Linked DNA regions of Homo sapiens: regions 1, 3 and 4 are each linked to region 2. Evidence: fine-mapped expression QTL. A gene starts in region 2. Each other region holds a variant in brackets. All regions are shown on one strand. Distances are between the middles of the regions.

The links. PIP is the estimated chance that this variant, and not a neighbour inherited with it, causes the effect. A credible set is the group of variants that fine-mapping cannot tell apart.
Region 1: its variant is the best candidate, but not a certain one, in a credible set for the expression of HIVEP1 in whole blood (TOPMed, PIP 0.58).
Region 3: its variant is the best candidate, but not a certain one, in a credible set for the expression of HIVEP1 in whole blood (INTERVAL, PIP 0.65).
Region 4: its variant is the best candidate, but not a certain one, in a credible set for the expression of HIVEP1 in monocytes (TOPMed, PIP 0.62).

Annotation. Positions count from the first base shown.
Region 1 is chr6:11,587,164-11,592,317 of GRCh38, forward strand. No RefSeq gene overlaps it. Among named protein-coding and RNA genes, the nearest start is that of TMEM170B, 52 kb to the left of the region's middle. The variant T/C (reference allele first, on the strand shown) is at 3,033.
Region 2 is chr6:12,009,398-12,014,551 of GRCh38, forward strand. It overlaps HIVEP1 (HIVEP zinc finger 1), which reads left to right and starts at 2,915. Exons shown (of 9, transcript NM_002114.4): 1 at 2,915-3,169. RefSeq lists an enhancer at 966-1,510 and silencers at 1,840-2,749, 2,930-3,069.
Region 3 is chr6:11,984,821-11,989,974 of GRCh38, forward strand. No RefSeq gene overlaps it. Among named protein-coding and RNA genes, the nearest start is that of HIVEP1, 25 kb to the right of the region's middle. The variant T/G (reference allele first, on the strand shown) is at 3,028.
Region 4 is chr6:12,049,642-12,054,795 of GRCh38, forward strand. All of the region lies in intron 2 of HIVEP1 (HIVEP zinc finger 1), which reads left to right. Among named protein-coding and RNA genes, the nearest start is that of HIVEP1, 40 kb to the left of the region's middle. RefSeq lists enhancers at 2,185-2,454, 2,485-2,534, 2,555-2,634. The variant A/G (reference allele first, on the strand shown) is at 2,392.

The DNA.
Region 1 (5,154 bases), 420 kb before region 2:
GGCACATGTAATCCCAGCTACTTGGGAGGCTGAGGAAGGAGAATCGCTTGAACCCGGGAGATGGAAGTTGCAGTAAGCCGAGATGGTACCACTGCACTCCAGCCTGGGCAACAGAGTGAGACTCTGTTGCCAAAAAAGAAAAAAAAAAGAGGACCAAACAGATTTTCATAAAACTACACTTGGCTTACTTTTCGTGGGAATTGGTGTTGGTGGGTGACTCCAAAATGTGTTAAAAGAAGATGCTTGTGCTATCTTTGATGTGGAAAATAGGAGAAGGTACAGAGATGAGTGGGAGATGTAGGGTTGAGGAAACTACAATTTTGAGAGACTCATGACTTTTTTTTTTCTTTAAGTTCCGGGATACATGTGCAGAACGTGCATGTTTGTTACATAGGTATACGTGTGCCATGGTGGTTTGCTGCACCTATTTATTCATCCTCTAGATTCCCTTCCCTTGCCCCCCACCCACCAGCAGGTCCTGGTGTATGTCGTTCCCCTCCCTGTGTCCATGTGTTCTCATTATTCAACTCCCACTTATGAGTGAGAACATGTGGTGTTTGGGTTTCTGTTCCTGTGTTACTTTGCTGTGGGTGATGGCTTCCAGCTTCATCATGTCCCTGCAAAGGACATGATCTCATTCCTTTTTATGGCTGCATAGTATTCCATGGTGTATATGTACCACATTTTCTTTATCCAGTCTATCATTGATGGGCATTTGGGTTGGTTCCATGTCTTTGCTATTGTAAATAGTGCTGCAGTAAACATATGTGCATGTGTCTTTATAGTAGAATGATTTATATTTCTTTGGATATATACCCAGTATTGGGATTGCTGGGTCAAATGGTATTTCTGGTTCTAGATCCTTGAGGAATCACCACACTGTCTTCCACAATGGTGGAACTAATTTACATTCCCATCAATAGCGTAAAAGCATTTCTATTTCTTGAGACTCGTGACTTTTGAAAGCCCTGTGCATGTTACCTGAGAGGGGATGATATGAGACCTGGGTCTTCTCCCAGGTTCTGACCCTTTGTGCCCATGAGACCTCACATTAGACTTAATCTCTCTATGCCAATTTCTTCTTCAGTAAACCTGAAAACACATCAACTCTTTTTGCTTTCTCGTAAATGCAAGTTGAAACTTTTAACAGGACAGCATCAGTATAGACCTGTTATTCTCAGACTTTCCTAGGCCAGGACCAGTTTGGCTCCAAGCGTTTGACACTTAACATGTCCATGTAGTTCTGAGCCTTAGTCTACGTCCAGATTCATTTGAAACTTGTTTAACTTGGAGGATTTTTTGCAAGGTGAATGAGAAGGGAAGAAAATTTCAAATCTAAACTCTAACTTCTGTTTTTTTTCCCTTTTTTGCAATTCAACAAGGCAGAGGTATTATTCCAATTTTGCTGATCCAGAAACTGAGGCATACAGGTTACATGTCTTGGCCAACATCATACACAAACATATGTGTTCATATATGCACATGCAAGAATATATACACACACAGTGTCTTGATCTAAATTCAGCTTTTCACATAACTTCTGGCTTTTTTTTTTTTAAGACAGAGTTTCGCTCTTGTTGCCCAGGCTGGAATGCAATGGCGCGATCTTGGCTCACTGCAACCTCTGCCTCCCAGGTTCAAGTGATTCTCCTGCCTCAGCCTCCCAAGTAGCTGGGATTACAGGTGCCCACCACCATGCCTGGCCAATTTTTGTGTTTTTAGTAGAGATGGGGTTTCACCGTGTTGGCCAGGCTGGTCTCAAACTCCTGACCTCAGGTGATCCACCTGCCTCGGCCTCCCAAAGTGCTGGGATTACAGGCATGGGCCACTGTGCCTGGCCTGTTTTTCATTTTTTACAAGTGCCTGGAGGATATATGTAAAGCCTATATTACTGATAGGGTCATCATTGTAATAATGTTGGAATTCAACTTTTACTCTCAAACCATTTTCACATCTATAATGTCATTTTGTCCTCACAATCTGTTCTTATTTGAGGGAAAGGTAAAATGCTTTTAATAAATGAAGAAAGCCATTTACTTGGTTAAACAAAGGTCTCTTATGGGACCTGGACAGCTGTTTGAACAGATGTGCATGTGAAGAGCAGAACAGAGGTGGCCATAGCAGCCTAATTGCCTGGACTCAGGTAATCCCTAGAGGCCCAAAGGGATCCCCTTGGAAACTGGTCACTTCCTGGGTAACCCATGACTAGCTCATTTTCCTGCCACAAGGCTTTGGCTTATGACTTTTAAGAGACAGGACGTACAAAGGCCCAAATGTTCACTTGAGATCTTATTGAGGGGTTAAGTCCCGTTTGCTTCCATCAGGAATACCTTGTGAGGGAGCTCTTCAGTCATAAGAGTTACACACCCAGGTCACTCGAATGCTGATAGGATACAACTGCCACAATGCTTCATTAATATTTTTCAACTTTTACTTTAACTAAGCAGACTATTTCTGTCACAAATAAAGCAGCATGCTTCTCAGACTCTTGTTCCACCTTAACTAGTTCAATGCACACCACCAATTATCTGGACAGGAAAAGTTGCCAAATCAAAGCAAAATATGAAGGCCCGCTGGACATTTTGAGTTCAAAAAGGATGAAAGAAAACAGTACTTTTGGGATTATTGATATGGGAAGCTGTGTTTTCGAGACTGCTGTAGACTGGAGTCTGAAGTATATCCGGAGTAGTTTTGTTGGTTGTGATGGGAAAAATGAACAGTGTGCTGATTAACCTCCGAATCAGGATTAGGTCAAAACACCCCTACTCATGACATCAGGAATCTGTTTGTGTGATGTTAGAGACTGTATTGGGGAAACTATTTGAAAAGATTGAACCAAAAGTTAGATTAAAATCATGTCCATAAATAAAGACTAGCTCAACCTTATGTCACCTTCACAATGGAAGAGACAAGAGGTAGAGATAAATTGGCAAATATCCCCAAAATAATTTTTGTTTGATGTTGAAACTTGTATCACTTTACAAGCGTCACTTTCTATTTTAAAGCATTTCTATCTGAAATGTATGCAACTT[T/C]GTCTTTACCATCTCTGGAAGGGGGCAGAGGTGGTCAAGTGTCAAAGGATTTCTTCACATGTGGTGTAGGTGGAGAATTAAGACAGGAATAATGTAGATAATGTGTGTGTGTGTGTGTTTCTTTAAAGAACTGTCCCAAAAGTTAACAAAATAAGCCCTTGAAATAGGTTCTGTCATGAAAGCAGGGCTTTTTCATAAGAGAAAATGAGGACGATCAGGCTGAAAATAACTAAGAATTGGTTTATTCTTACATATCCATTCAGCATTTTTAATTCTGGAAAGTATCAGACATCAACTTGAGAAATGCCTCAGATCATTTGGTAGGATTCCAGTTTTATGATGCACATCTCAAAGAATCCTATGATTATCTTGGCTGTTACTAATCCAGTCTGGTATTCGTAACAGCTTTTGTTCAAAACTATCAAAAATTCTAGCTTTTAATACAGTAATAAATTTGGTAAAATAAAGCCTGATCTCTCTCTCTCCTCTCTCTCAAATTTTCCAATCTTCCCACTTTGTTAGCCACAATGACAAATGGGTCAGACTAAATGTAAATAGCATTTATTAAGAGTGTTCTAAAGCAGCGGTCCCCAACGTTTTTGGCAGGAGGAACTGGTTTTGTGGAAGACAATTTTTCCACCGAGTGGGGTGTGGTTTCAAGATGAAACTCTTCCATCTCAGATCATCAGGCATTAGATTCTTACAAGGAGCACACAGTCTAGATCCCTCGCATCCGCAGTTCACAACAGGGCTTGCGCTCTCCTGCGAGACTCTAATGCCGCCACTAATCTGACATGAAGTGGAGCTCAGGGTGTAGCGCTCGCTGGCCCGCCATTCACCTCCTGCTGTGCGGCCTCGTTCTTTTTTTTTTTTTTTTTTTTTTTTTGAGACGGAGTCTCGCTCTGTCGCCCAGGCTGGAGTGCGGTGGCGCCATCTCTGCTCACTGCAAGCTCCACCTCCCGGGTTCAGGCCATTCTCCTGCCTCAGCCTCCCGAGTAGCTGGGACTACAGGCGCCCACCACCCATGCCCGGCTAATTTTTTGTATTTTTAGTAGAGATGGGGTTTCACCGTGTTAGCCAGGATGGTCTCGATCTCCTGACCTCGTGATCCGCCCGTCTCGGCCTCCCAAAGTGCTGGGATTACAGGTGTGAGCCACCACGCCCGGCCTGTGCGGCCTGGTTCTTAACAGGTAACAGAATGGTACCTGTCTGCAGCCTGGGGGTTGAGGACCCCTGTTCTAAAGAACACTAACTGGGAGAGGCTCTTTTTTTTTTTTTTTTTTGAGACAGAGTCATGCTCTGTCACCTGTCGCCCAGGCTGGAGTGCAGTGGCGCGATCTCCGCTCACCGTAAGCTCCGCCTCCCGGGTTCACGCCATTCTCCTGCCTCAGCCTCTAGAGTAGCTGGGACTACAGGGGCCCGCCGCCACGCCCGGCTAATTTTTTTTGTATTTTTAGTAGAGATGGGGTTTCACCGTGTTAGCAAGGATGGTCTCGATCTCCTGACCTCGTGATCTGCCCGCCTCGGCCTCCCAAAGTGCTGGGATTACAGGCGTGAGCCTCCACGCCCGGCACCCGGGAGAGGCTCTTAAGAGAAAGAATTCCCTGGCCAAGGAATTCAAATAAGCTGGATAAAACTTGCCTTCTGTATTCCTGTCTTAGAGATTCACAATTCCCACGTGTATATTGAAGACCATGGAAAGCTCTGAGTTATAATCCTATTTGGCTCTGTTTAATTTCCATAAATACTCTTTTAACAAATCAACATCAGTAGGAGGAATGTCCCTAGTTGATTCTGTGGTCTTCCAGGAAGCGCTTGCAAGCATATTTTTAAAGTTCTTCCTGGTCCCCATCCCAAAGGTCTCTGGCCCATCACACTACACCTGAGCTAGGTTTTGACATCTAAGTTTTTCTATTTTTGTTTTGAGCCCAGGCTGGAGTGCAGTGGCACGATCTCAGCACACTGCGACCTCTGCCTCCCAAGTTCAAGCGATTTTCCTGCCTCAGCCTCCCGAGTAGTTGGGACTACAGGTGCGCACCATCACACCCAGCAAATTTTTACATTTTTAGTAGAGACAGGCTTTTACCATGTTGACCAGGCTGGTCTCGAACTCCTGACCTCA
Region 2 (5,154 bases):
AGGGGGGCTCCAGAAGCGTTCACGCGGACGGTGGGGATGGAACCATAGAGAAATGGACCTCCAGGAGCCCCCTCTTTTTTGGGGGCAGAGAATGGTCACTTGCTCCTGCATTGTCCCAGGATTTTTGACAGTTGAAACTGCAGTTTACCATTCACATTCATCCTCCACATTCACCCTCTGCTTCATTTTTTTCCCACGCTGTGTTTATTTGATACATTTTGAGAAAATATATTGGATTTGCCACAAAACAAGCCTAAAGAAGCTACTTTATAGTATAGCCAGGTTTCCCTGCATCCTGATATCTGGGAAGAATTGTAGGCAGAATTAGGAAAAGAAACTGCATTTAGAAAATTCAAAAACTTACTAGGAAACTATTCTGTATTGTATATATTTCAAATAAAAGTTTAATATCGGTTTGCTGCTCAAGGAAATAGTTGAAATGTCAAAATTTACCTATCGTAATTCGAAATTGCATGTATGTTTTGTTAGAAAGTTCGTAGTAATGCTGAATCCTACATAAACATTGTGTTGACAGTATGTTGTGCTCAACAATTATTGGGTTAAACGTTATTCATTCAGTTAGCATTTTTCACTTCCAAAGTGATACAAACTTCACTCATTATCACATTACCTTTCTCCTGACAGATTAATAGCTATACGTTCACAGTTAAATGCATGTTTACTTTTGGATTCAAATAACCCAGTTGGGAAGTTACATTATATACTTTTTTGGTGATTGCAACCTATTGGATATCATTTCATTTCACAAATGAGAGATGGTTATAGCACAATGAAAATAAAAATTGCATTATTTCATCGTAGGGTTAGCATTAGTATGCTAGACATAATTGTACATGTACACAGTTGGATGATCTTTGCTTTTATAACCAAATTTACTTTGTAGTAGGCATATTTCTCCCTTTACATGATATTATTTTTGGCTACACACTCGCCATTACTGAGTATTCCATTTTTAATCATTCCCATTCTGGTGGTTTGAGCTTTTCTTAGCTCAAATGAGCCAGAGGTACGATTTCCTCAGGGGAATTTTAGGGGTCAACTCCAGCAGGAAAAACCTAGACGTCGTTATGGAAGCCCAAGGGAACAAAACAATTCAAGTTTGCACAGATGGCCAGCTGTCTTAGTGGTTGTATGGTCGTTTAGCATTTTTATTCCTTAAAAGGGGAAACCAGTTTAGTTTCATCAGGGATTTTTTTTTTTTTGCATCAATTTTGTTTCACCTTATTCCTCTCAAGTTTGAGGTGGCCCGTTAAACCAGCCACTTTTGCTTCTTGAGGTGGACCTGTGGAATTTCTGTGCCCCAAACTGCGAACGTTCTTTAGGTCTAACCCTGAAAACCTTCGTTACCCTGGTCCAGCCCCTCTTCACTGCTTTGCCATGGATTTCCACTCCTTGCTTTCTCTACTGCTTTCTAGCAGCCGGGGTCACACCTTGGTTCATGCTAATTACTCCCTCTTCCCCTTTCACGCTCTCCCCTCTTCCCTGGAGCCCGGTCCGACGACCAGCCCCGCACCCCCCTTTTCTGTCCCCGAAGTCCCCTCCCGGGTTGGCCCTATAAGCTGTCAGGCTGGCAGGCAGGGGTTAATTGCGCTCGCAGCTTCGGCACTGGGAAGCACCAGCGGGGCTTTGGAGCGGCCTCTGGAATAACCTTGGCTTTCCTCGCTCTTTTAATAGAACATCCGCCACCAAAAAGTGGTTTCAGTTCAGGGTTAACATGTCCCCTTCCACTCTCCAAACCAACACCCTGCCCCCTCCGTTTTTTTAAAAGTTGTTTTTCAAAGTTAATGAGTTTTAAGTTTCACAATGACTTTCCCCTTCCTTCTACGCGTTGCTGAGGAAACCCCCTTGGGGTCCCCCCCCCCCCCCGCCTCCCCCTCCCCCATTCTGCCCGGGCGAGGGGCGGGGCCGGGAGACCCCATGACGTCAGCGGCCGGCCCACATCCTGCTGTAGAAAGTAAAGAGACGGTAAAGAGAAACTACGGCCCCGCCCGTCCCGTCCCTCTTCCCGGACCAACCGCCCCCAACTGAGCGACCCCGCCAGGCCTTCCCGGGGCCGCGTGACTGGCCGGGCCCGCCCCTCCGCCCCCGCCGTGTGCTGGTTCCCCAGGCGTCGCGACCCAGGGCTCCCGCCCCCCGCGTCCCTAACCCCGCCCCTCCCCCCCGGGCTGCGCTGCCACCTCCTCCCGCGTCCCCCTCCCGTCCCTGCGGCGGCTCGGCCGGGCGGGGCGGGGAGGGGCGAAGCGGCGGGTAGGTGGCGGGGCCGGCGCGGTCTGGGGCCCGCCCCGCCGGGGAGACCCGGGGCACTGGCTCCGGGTTCGTGCCGGGCCGGGCGCCCATCCAGTCCCTACACCCGGTCAGAGCTGGCGGCCGCGCCGGCCCAGCTGGGCCCCGGCGCCTGGGCGTCCCGCGCCCCTCGCCCCGGCCTCAACCCCAGCCCCCGCGGGGACGCCCCCTCCCCCGCCCACGCGTCGCCGCCCGCGGCCTCCCCTCCTCCCGCCCCCGGGGATCCCCTGCCGCCCCGCCCACCCGCGGGAAAGCCTCCGACCTTCGCCCTGCCTCCCCCGCGCCGCCCGGCCCGCGTTCCTCCCGCCGGCCCCAAAGACGCTAAACGTGCCCTACTCTGCCCCGGGGGAGAGGTAAAGCCCGCGCCCGTCCTTCCCGCCCCGGGCCCCGCGGCCCCAGGGTCTGTCCGCCCGCCCCGCCGCGGCGCGCGCCCCCCAGCCCGGCTGCCCGGCTCCCTGGCGGCCGCGATCATGCCGTGGCTCCGGGCGCCGGCGAGCTTCGCCGCCTCCTCCGCCCGGCGGCTGCGGCCCCCGCCCGCGCGCCCCGCGCTCCCCCCCCCGCCCCCCGGCCCGCTCCCCTGTTTAATATTTCAGTGCTGGGTGGTGTGAGCGCCAGTCGCCGGCCTTCAGCGTGGCGGCTGCTGGGCGGCGGCAGGGTGGCGGACGGAGCGGGGGACCGGGGAGCGGCGGCCGCCGGAGGAGGTTATGTTTGTGTTTGGGGTTGTCAAGTGAAGGAGGGATCCCAGGCGCCGCCGCCGCCGCCGCGCGGGGGTCGCGGAGATCCCGAGCCGCGGCCGCCGCCATCAGCAGCGCAGCTCCAGGGCCGGCTGCAGCGGCAGCGGCTCCGCCGGGCGTCCTGGCAGCAGGTTCGGCGCGGGCTCCGCGGCGGGGGCGCTGCAGCTGGGGAGGGCGGCGGGGCGGAGGGGGGGGGGGGCAGGAGCACATCCCTTCGGCGGGCGGGGGGCGTGCGGGCGCGCGTGTGTGTGTGTGTGTGCGTGTGTGTGCAACCGCCGACCTTGCAGAGGGGATGGCTGCGTGCGGGAGACCCTTGGCACTTCTGGGCGCCCTCGCCGCGCGCGAGCCGAGCAGGTACAGAGGGACCCAGCCTCCCCAGCCGCCTTCCAGCCGCAGACGCATTTTGCAAGAGGGTGGGGGGTGAAAGAGACCAGGCCTCGGCATCCCAACCTCCCGGCTTTGTGGGTTTCTTTCCCTTTCGTTCTTTGCTCTAAGTGCCTGTTTACTCCCGGCCACCTGGGTAGTTTCTTTCCGGGTTGGGAGTGCGCGCCAGCTGCAGTTGGGAAGGGGGCGGTGGGTTGGGGTGCGGGTCGGCTCGGGCTCGCCTTGGGGTCGGGCTCGGGAAGGAGTTGCTGGCTGGAGAGGGGAGGGGGCGGCGGCGGAGCAGGCGGCGAGGAGGAGTCTCAGGGCTGCCGCGCTCGCCTCATCTCGTCCTCCTCCTCCTCAGCTCTCTGCATCCACTCCAGGCTCCTTCCTGAGCTGGCACTTCCATTCCCCCCCTCCTCCTGGCATGCGAAGCGCTTTGTTCAGTGCAGCGTTGCAGAGGGGTTTTCCCAGGCTCCGCCCTCCACATTCATTCATGTTTTTTCTCCTTGCAACTGTCTTTACGCTTTTTGATCGTGTCATGTTTTTGCTCCATGTAGTATTTATTTCTTTCCCGTAAAGGAACGGTTTATCACTCGTCCTAGTCGCTACAATGCTGCTGTCTTTGGAAATACCCACTTCCCCCCACAAGGATTTAAATATGGGATGGACAGCTAGGGACAGTGGGTAGGCAATGAACGGGGTAGCAGAAAGCCTTTACGGACAGGGAATGTGCATATTTTACATTTATGCTCCGGATCCCATGGGATCACATGATTGGATTACAGTCAGAGTTCACGCTTTAAAAACTTCCAAATATCGTTACCATTTAAAAGCTTTAAGTTTAACAACGAACGTAGTTAAGCATTCATGCAATTTATTTGGTTCAGCTGTGTCTCAATTCTTTATTGAATCAGAACCTTCCTGAATTAGATAGTGGATGTTTCTTTAGAGCAAGGAGCTGAGAAACCCTATCTTTTATAGATCACTTAGCACAATGCTAGATGAAATACTTAGACCATCATTTTTTTTTGTATTATTTTACCATGTAGTTAAAAATTGCAAATAATTTTGTGCTGAGCTGACATACAGCCAGATCAGGGATAAAATACTGAAGTTAATCGTGGCCTTCTTTACCTTCTGTTTCTTTGCTGTAATGAAACCATAAATTTCTAAAACCTTATACTGGGATGTTAGACACATTCCTTCCCATATAGGCTTTCTTAAGGAGAATTAATAGTTCAGCGTTTTTGTGTGACAGGCAAAGCGTCTACAATGTTTAGTTTAGTCCTTATAACAACCTTCTGATGTGGATAATATTTCCTAATTTTACAGTTGGGAAATCTGATCTTCAGAGAGGTTAAGTAACCTGAACAAGGCCACACAGTAAGGGGTAAAGCCTGGCTTTGAACCCACTCCGGTTTGACACCAAGATAAGTCGTCATGACTTGCTGCGCCTCTTGAAAGAAATCCTGAAAGTAGATGTTATCAGCTCCACAAAATAAGCACTGGATATAACTGAGTCATGCAGTACCACATTCTTTAGTTGTTTATCTTGGACAAGTTACTTATCCAATTTTTTTTTAATCTGTAAAATGAATAAATGATAGCTACCTTCTTAGTTAACAGATTAAATTAGGGAATGTGTAGAAAGTACACAGGCACATAGTAGGTGCTCATAAGTGTTCTCTTGTCTTCTACAGTACCACTAATAACAAAAGCTTTAAGCCTTCCTTACTGTTCTATTCTTGTG
Region 3 (5,154 bases), 25 kb before region 2:
TGCTTCCTTAATTTTGTTTGCATTATTAGCAAACATTTTCTGTAATCAATGAAAGGTTCTATACACTGCTAAAAAATAACTATTCTAGCAGCTATTACATAACATAAAATATTTAATAATAGGTGGAAAATGTAAACAATTTAGAAAATGAACAAGATATTTTTAAGATCTGACTTGATAAAATATATGTTAACCAATAATTGAATAATACATTCCAAATCTAAAAAAAAAATTGCTATCATTTGAAACATTTGGACCCCAGTTACTTTTAAAGCAAATGGTATCACCAATCTCCACTGCTTGTTCCTTGAAGATGTTTTTCTTCCCAGTCAATGTCACATCCTTGGGAGGAGAATTGAAAGTAGCTGAAGAAAACTGCTTACATTTAAATGAGAAAAAAAGACAGTCATTTTTGGCATCAGTGTGTTTTACCAATGCTCCCTTTGCTTTGCGGGTGCAAACTCTCCCTTGGAGAGCAATGCACTTTTTGCCAATCCTTTTGAGAAGTAAAAGAAGAGGTGGTAAAAGATAACTGTCATTCCTTCCCCTCTCGGAAATGTCAGGTTTCAGGATGATCCACCAAGGGCAAAAGACTCTGCTTCCAATACACCTCTATATCTTTAAAAAGAAATATGTAGAAGAGAGTGAAATACTAGAAAACTTGTGGACTTTTATTGATCCGTGGATTAATTATAAAAGGAAGGCTCCAAGAAAACAATATTTTCAGAAGTCCCTTGGTTTGGTTCTCTGGCGGCACCTCACATTAAGGGGCCAGATACCACTATGGTAAAATCTCGGAGCGGTGAGAGGTAAATCTTTCATGATGATCAGTGATGCTGTTCACTGAACCTTTCCAGGCTCTCTGTCTGCCAGGCTCTGTGGGGCCAAGGGAATGCATTGTAAAGAGAAACAGTGACATTCTGGAGTGGATGGTTTCCCACAACATCCTGACAAATTCAACTTTCTTTTTTAAAATGGGAAAAGTTTTACTTTGAAAGATGAGCTAAGGAAAAAGAGAGCCCACTTTATAGAAGGGAAGAGTATATACCAAAGTTGTGCCGTGTATATTGAGACCTTTAAACTACCCACATTGTATACCTTTTTAGAGTCTCTATTTAGCCCAGTTTGAAGATCATTTGTCCAGGGGGAAAAACATTCTTTTAAATAGTTTGACAAAACACAGCTAGGGAATCTCCATGGAAAATATATTCATGTATTCATGATAATTCCTCATCTCATTTCAGGAAATTGTAAACATTCTTTTTCTTTCTTTCATTCTTTTTTTTTTTTTTTTTTTTTTTTTTTTGAGATGGAGTCTCGCTCTGTGGCCCAGGCTGGAGTGCAGTGGTGTGATCTTGGCTCACTGCAACCTCTGCCTCCTGGCTTCAAGCAATTCTCCTGCCTCAGCTTCCCAGGTAGCTAGGATTACAGGTGTGTGCCACCATGCCTGCCTAATTTTAAACATTCTATTATTTTAAATAATTTATTCTGCACTCTATTTAGCTAAGTATATGTGTCCCAACAAACTAAAGAACCAAAAGCATAAACACCAACTCCTTAGGATAGTGAAACCCTCCCCTTCCCTCCTCTACCAAGGAGAACACAGGCCTGACCTAGGAACTGAGCAGGGGTCCACTGTGAAACAGTAGTTGCAGTATCTGGACAGATTATTTTCCATTTTTAAAATAATAACAACATAAAAATAAGTGTCCCAATATTTTATTTGCATACCATTCTGGCATAGATCATCCCTTAGGATACATCAACATCATTTCAGAAAAAAAAACTGAGAGAATACTGTCTTCTACATTCCTATTAAATTTCCTTTTAATCTGTGGTTCAACATTATCGTTCCTAATTTTAGGTCTTTATGGTTTCGTTTTGGTTTTCTTAATCAAACTTGGTAGATTTTTTTTTTTTTTTTTTTTTTGAGACGGAGTCTCACTCTGTCGCCAGGCCGGAGTGCGGTGGCGTGATCTCGGCTCACTGCAACCTCCGCCTCTGGGGTTCAAGTGATTCTCCTTCCTCAGCCTCCTGAGTAGCTGGGACTACAGGCATGTACCACCACACCCAGCTAATTTTTGTGTTTTTAGTAGAGACAGGGTTTCTCCATGTTGGCCAGGATGGTCTCAATCTCTTAACCTCGTGATCCGCCCACCTTGCCTCCCAAAGTGCTGGGATTACAGGCATGAGCCACCATCCCCGGCCCTTGGTAAATATTTATTAATTTTATTGGACTGTGTAAGTAATAGTCTTTTGTATTTATCACTTTTTCTATCCTTCTAATTTATTATTACACTTTTACACCTAATAATTATTTCCTCTTCCTTTTCTTAGATTTATTTTCATGTGATATCAGCTTCTTGAGTTAAACACTAGGTTTTTTTTTTTTTTGGTTAAGGTATAATTGACAAATACATATTGTATATATTATATTTATGGTGTACAATGTAAGTAATGTTTTGATATATAAGTACATTGTGAAATGTTTAAATCAATCTATTGAATATATCCAATAGTTATTTTTTGTGGTGAGAATAAAGATCTACTCTCTTAGCAATATTTAAATATACAATACACTTTTATTAACTATAGTCACCATGCTATACAATACTAGATCTCGCAAACTTTTATTTTTTTAAGTGAAGGCATGTTTATTAAGTAAGTAAAGGAATAAAATAATGACTACTTCATAGGCAGGGCAGTCCTGAGGGCTACTGGTTGCCCATTTTTGTGGTTAATGCTTGATGATATACTAAACAAGCAGCAGATTATTCATGCCTTCCCTTTTCAGACAATATAGGATAACTTCCTGATGCTGCCACGGCATTTGTAAACTTAGACCTCCCAAGTTTATTCATCCTGCCCAATTGAAACTTTGTATCCTTTGACCAACATCTTAAAATGATTTTCTTTCTCAGAATATAGCTTTTGTTATATTGATAAGAAATGTTTTCCTTATGCCGATGTCTGAATATATTAATAATGTTTAAATCCGTAACAGCATATTTGATTCCTTTTTTGACT[T/G]AAGTCTTATTTAGGAGGATGTCTTGATATTTTCAAATAGTTGGATTTGGGGAAGAAAGAACAGTTTTGGAGTGTTTTTTCCAATTTAAAATCTTTGATTGCATTTATAGCATTGTGGTCTTAAAAAATTTTCTATACCACTTCTGCTTTGGGAAGTGTATTACAATTTCTCTCTGAAAAATTTTCCTCTGAAATAGGCTGTCATGGGTTCTCTGGATGGGTCCTGGTTTCCGAATTTAATCTCTAGTTCTTCCTCACTAGCCTTAAGAGTGGCATAATTCTTAACAACAACAACTCATAACCAACATCACATTAGCTTCACTATGATTTATTGAGGCCACTCTCAAAGAAAAGGTCCATTCTGGAAGGCAGTGAAGATAACAAAATTCACAGTACCACAGTCAGCAATGGTGTGGGCTCTTTTGCTTCTTGGAGCAGGACAAGTCAGCCCCTGGATTCCTTGCTGGCCGCCCCGGCTGACAAACCTAGAACAACAGCGGCACAGACATCCTCCCTGTGCGTGCCCGGCTGTTCCGTTTTGCTTCAAAGCCGGTGGGGGACGGAGGGGCGGTAAAATATTGGTAACTCGTGTGATAGAACTGATGGTACTAGTCAGCCATCTCACCCACCTCCTAAAGGCGCCTGCCCAGCTGTAACTGCCGCTGAGTGACCTGGCCTTGGAGGGGGCACATTCCACAACGCATGTTCTCAAATGGATGTTCTGGAAACATAGGACCTCTCCAAAAACGCCTGCTCAAAAACGTTGGAAACTAATGATAAAAACCGTCGTTTTATTTTATTTTTATTTTGCACCCGCAGGATGGACATCTTTTTGAGGCATGCCCTATCTGGTATGCAGCTGGAGGGAAAGCGCATTGGCTCACAGGCTCAGGGCTTCTCTCTGACAGATCAGAGCTGGTGGCCCGATGTGCATAACCGATGTAAATAATCAGTGATTCTGCAGGTGCCAGGAAAGTAGGTCTCTCCAAGGAACGAAGTTTTTCTTCATGTCCATTAACCATCAGTACTAATTTTACTATTCGATCTTTCACATTCATGTTTCTGTTACTGCCTGCTTGATGTTTTGCTTGGCTCAACTCAAAGACTGAGTTGATGAGGATTTTATTTTAATTACTACAGTAATAAGCTCATTGTAAAAGTTAAATAAGAGATGATAGAAAATTTTAACATCTTTGCCCAGGCAGCCCCCTCCAGTTCTTTCCTCCTGAAGTATTAACTTAATGTTGTCTTTTAACAGATACATACAAACGAATATTGAGGTTTTTTTTTAAAAAAAGGAATCATGCTATAGATATGAATTCCGTAATTTTCTCTGAAGGTGAATTTTTCTAATTTTTAAATGTGTATATTTCAAGCAATGCTACTTGGCATATAACAGTTTATGACTTTCAAAGTTTTATTATACCAGTAGAGAATAATCTATTTGGGTCCCATTTTATCTTTATCATCTTAAACCGATGTTTTCAAAAACTGTTTTGTTGTGATATAATTTACATATCATAAAACTCAACTGTGTTAAGTGTACAATTTAATAAATTTTACTATATTTACGGAGTTGTGCAACCATCAACAGAATCCAATTTTAAAACATTTCCATCATCCTAAGAAGAAACTTCACACCATCACTCTCCATTCCATCGTCAGCCATAGACAATGAGTAATGCAGTTTCTGTCTCTTATTATCTGCCTTTTTCCTTTGGACATTTCATATAAATGAGCTCATACAACATGTATGCTTGGCTTCTTTCACTGAGCACAATATTTTTGAAATATGTCCACCTTGTAGCATTTATCAGTACTTCCTTTTTTCTTGCCAACCAGCATTCCTTAAATTAAGTTTCACCTGGCATATTTTACTCATTTTTACATTTTTACACATAATACATCATGATGTTTTAGGTGCTTTATAAATGGCAAAAGATTAGAATTTGTATTTAACCACTTAACCACTGAAAGTGTGAATAAAATTTCACAGGAATTCTGAGGAGAGTGAGATCAGGCAATGCTTCAGCCAAGGGGCATCATCTGATCGTCAAGGAAAGGCAGAGTTTGAATAAGAAGAGACTCCACTGAGGGGTGGAAGGAGATGGAGCCTATTTCATTTAT
Region 4 (5,154 bases), 40 kb after region 2:
ATAAATGCTATTTATATGTAGAAAGAAAGATGGAGGGATGATTTACAGATGACTCAAACTTATTTAAAAACAAATTTGTGGATTTCCACTAATAAGCTTATACTTTCATGGCACACTTGAGTAGTTTTTATTAAACTTCCTTTTTCTCGTATGCTCTATTTGGGATTTCAACAATTTTTATTATGTAATGAGGGAATATTTTTGTTGTGAAATTTTTCTTCCTTTTTGATGTAACTGTTAGAATTTGATGAACTGGTTTGTAACATTAAAATGAAGATGAAAAATTACAAGGTATTCACCAAATGAATGTCACTTTCTGGGGTGTTGCTGGCGATGATATGGGCTCTCTGGAGCATATATATCCGGAGGTGCTCAGAGTCTGCCCCTGTTGCTCCTAAGAAAGACAAAGCCTCCTATCTGATCAGCTTTGTCCATGACTCTCTAACTTGTTCTTACACTGACACCATTAACTGCCCTAAATGCCAGGCACCTACTCCGCCAGCCCAGTGGAAACAAGCCTGTATTAGTAAACCGCGATTGGGTTTAGAATTGGGACTGTTCCACATGCTCTCTACTTGCCAGATAAGCCTTAGCATCCTCATCTGTGAATAACGAGAGTTCATGCCTGCCACACATGGGCACTGTAAAAATTAAACACCATCGGCCGGGTGCGCTGGCTCACGCCTGTAATCCCAGCACTTTGGAAGGCCAAGACGGGCGGATCATGAGGTCAGGAGATCGAGACCATCCTGGCTAACACGGTGAAACCCTGTCTCTACTAAAAATTCAAAAACACTAGCCGGGCGTAGTGGCAGGCACCTGTAGTCCCAGTTACTCGGGAGGCTGAGGCAGGAGAATGGCGTGAACCCGGGAGGCGGAGCTTGCAGTGAGCCGAGATCACGCCACTACACTCCAGCCTGGGCGACAGAGAGAGACTCCGTCTCAAAAAAAAAAAAATAAAAAAATTAAACACCATGGGTCCAGCTGGGCGACTCCCATCCTCTCCTCAAGAATCATAAACATCTTTCTTTGCTTTCAAGATTAGCTCTCGCAGTCGGGCCCTGTCAGGCCCCTCCAGACAGTCTCACTGTAGATGCCCTTGCTTTCTAGCCCTTGGCCTGGTGGGCCATTTGCTCATCCTAAGTAGGCCTTTCCTGCTTCCAAGTCTTTGCTCCTACTTTTGGGGGGTCTTAATCTCCACCTATTGAAATGTTCTATTGATGAAGGTAGAAGTGGTGGGAAATGGTATCGGGGAACCACAGGCCAGGCGCTAGGCATGCTCATTGCTACTGGGTTGGCCGTTGCTTCCAGGCCTGTTCAGTGGACGCTGAGTGCATGTGTGTAGCAGATACACAAGTGCATATATATATATATATATATATATATATATGTATATTAAAATAAATATCAGGACGACAGGGTTTTTACTTCACCTCTTGGATCTTATACTTCTGTCTCCTTTCTCTCACAGCGAGAATGCTTGTACTCCTGGAATGGCAGAATTACTTACTTGCTTTGATATACACAGCAGTTCAGACTACTAATGCCAGCACCAATACCACCATTTTTCTTTTGTCATTAGTTTATGTCCCACTACGGATATAGGATTAATGTATTTCACTGTCAGTCATTCTTCTCTGTGTGGTTATGCTACCACCTTATAAATGCAGGGTTCATTTGTCACATTTTATTTTTGATTTTTAGGAGTTTTTATTTAAAATTTTTGTTTTACAATCACAGAAAATATTTACATGACTCCAAAGTAGCATCTAGAAAACAAGATACTGTCAAAAAAGTCCATCTTCTATCTCTGCCTTCTCCCCTCCAGTAAGTAACCATTTAAGAATATTATGTTTTATCTTTCCATTTTTGCCTTTACTATGTGTGTGTATACATAGTGTATGTATGTAAATACTATATAATTAGTGCATTTTATTATTTCACCCTAATTAAATATAATATATAGATAAAATATAAATAGATACAGGTATCTTTACATGTTAACATGCAGTCTAACCATTTTTTTTGTTTCTCGGGAAGGGAGGTGGTGGGGAGGGTGGTACATGAATGGGTATTACTAAAATTACTTTATTAGGTGGGCTGAAGTTTTTATTTGTTTTTGTTTCTTTTTATATAAATCTTTATAAACGCTTATTCACTGTGCTTTTTACTTTTAGTCAGCTTCTCTTTCCATATTTACACTTGTCCATAATTATACTTCAGCAATCTTGGGAGAGAACCTCTGTGGCTTTCTGAAAAATTATTCTTTTATATAAACTTGCCCAGATGAGTTATAGGAGGAACTGTTCTCTCCAGTTTCAAAATGAGTTTACATACTGTGTGGGGGGACTTTCCAACTGAGGATAGCATGTCGTGGTGTGTGGTTAGCCA[A/G]TACAGAGATCTAAGAGGCTGCACGGCTTTTGCTAACTTGTGAAACATGCCTTTAATTTTAAAAGCAGTCTTTGGAAATTCTACTTCCATTTGTACATGGCTTTAGATGAATAAAGACATGTCTTCTTACGGAATCAAGACCACGGCATATGTATACAGGCAGATGATGAATGTATTGATTCTTTTACTTCACCTTATATTTACTCAACAAGGAGACATCTAAATAATGAAATGCATCTTACTGGAACCACCCAAAGTAAGCCACTTAGAGGGCCACCTAGAGATAGCTTTGTAGAGCATGATGGAATATCTGAGGGTTTTTATTAATACATTTTAACTTTCTTAAACATCATTTAAAAAATTAATGTTCTAAATATACCTCCAATAGTACATGAAACTGTTACAATAGTGTCCGAACCTTATGTGTGTAAAGTTATTTGGTCAGTTTGGAAAATTTTGTAGTATTTGTGAAGAAGGGTACAAGAGCTAACATACATTGAGTATCTACTCTGTGTCTGGTGTGTTCCATCAGTCATCTCTTTCAGGAATTAAAACTATCTTATGAGGCAGATAGCACTATTTAATTTTTTGTTATGAAAGAGGCTGAGACTTGGAGAGTTGGAGTCTCTTGCCTTGTATCATGTACCTAGTAAATGGCCAAACTAGGAATTGAGCCTCAGTTTTGTCTGAAAACAAATTCTTACTGTTCCCAGTGTACCTTGTTACCACAATTTACTTTCTTTTCTTGTCTTAAAATGAAGTCTGAGGTTCTAATTTCACCAGATTAAGACTAGGTAACCATCTGTAAACTAGAAATTTTAATTGATAAAACAATCATTCCTGTGCTTTAAAAATGCAGGCTAAAATGGTTAGGAAATGCTATCTTTTGGAGACTTGTAGCAAATGCTCAGAAAGTAATTTCTTGGGGTTGGGCGGGGATTCTCATCACAGTTTTTAAAATAATTTGATTGTCATTATTGCAAAGCTGTGTAGTTCCTGTAATTGGAGTATTTGCCTTTACACTTCACAGCTATAATTTTCTTCAAGATCGGAAGACTTTCTGAGCAGCTGCTTTAATTTACATCTGTTTTGGGGAAAATATAACACATGTCCATAGTATATGGTGTTCATTATAAAGATTTGCAGTAGACAAGGTATAAAATTATTATAAATATTTCCCAATATGCTGTTCATGTGTGTGTGTGTGTCTGTGTGTGTGTAGGGATATTTTGTGGCATATATAGCCAAATTTTATTTGCTGTTCTTTAAACATTGAGATGTCCTGACTGTCAATTTGTGGTTTGTTTAAAAGAAGAGTGGGATTTTTTTCTAGTCAAGTTAGAAGATAAAGTTTACCAAGGATACAAATAAGAGAAGCAGTATAGAAATGTATTATAAGCCATGGAAAATTATTATAAGAAAACACCATTAATTATAAATTAACTAAAATTTTAGGATATGACAAAAAAAACATAAATAGGTACCTGTGAGTCTTAAGGGGCAAAAGACTAATAGAAATATTCTGAGGCCCTGTGGAGATGGTGTGGGGGAGTTCTGAGTCCATAGCCCTAGGTAAGGGCAGAATTGATTCCATGTCTTGACTGAAACCAAAGTGGAGGTGGGATAGGGGGATGCTCTGTTGGGGGCTGTGTACTGCTTAAGCTAGGATATATTTGGAGAGAAAAGAAAACATTAATTTTCCTTTCTCAATCATAGCAAACCCCTTCCCCCACAAAACAGAAATTGACAAGAGAACCCTAGAGATAAATCTGCCAAGCTCTGTTATATGGTGGCTTTCAGCCCTTTTCCAGAATAAATAGGATGAACATCTTGGTACATAACGTATCTTTTACTTAAGGTCATTATTTTTTTCAATAAAGAATATGACAAATAGGATAACAGAAAGGGAACGTACATTTGATCCTTCTCCATGTGGAAATGTGAGCTACAACTTGTTAGTATCAGAAACGTAGGTTATCTTTCCCTTCTCCATTTCAAATAGTCTGTCATATTTGAAAGCTAATAGCTTTCAGGCTCGCATTGCCCATAACTCTCAGCAACATATAAAACATGCCCACTCTGTGTTTATTTACTTTAATCTGTCAATTGTGATGCCAACTCAAGATATTTGGGATTATTACATTTGATTCACTCATTTGCCTGATGACTCTGCAAATAATTGGATTGATACCAAGGTTTATGCTGTGGAAACTATGGTATGAAAAACAGTATATAGTCTATAGGTATATTTACAAGAAAACATACACTATATGTTTGTTTCAGAAAATTTGGAAGATCCACATACAGAAGTTATAGTCACTCATAACTGTACCATCCAGAAATAACTACTATTAACAATTTGATATCTTTCATTTATATGTATACATATGGATATATATGCATATACCTACATATGTATCTAGACTATATATACATGCACATTTACACACATATACATATGAATATATAACTACACATGAATTTTAAAGCACAGTTGGCATCATACAGTATATCTTTTGGGATGCTCCCCTTAATATTATCTATTACTAGTATTTTTCGGTGTCATTAAAATTCCCTATAAACATCAGTTTCAAATGACTGCATAATATTGTATCACATGACTTCACCATAATGAACTTTTTTTGCTGTTATTAGTTTGTTTCCATTTTATTTGGTTATCGTGGAACCTCTTTTTTCACTTTTCTGATTAACATACATGATTTCATGACATAGCATATTATTTGATGTTGTGCTTCTTGCTCA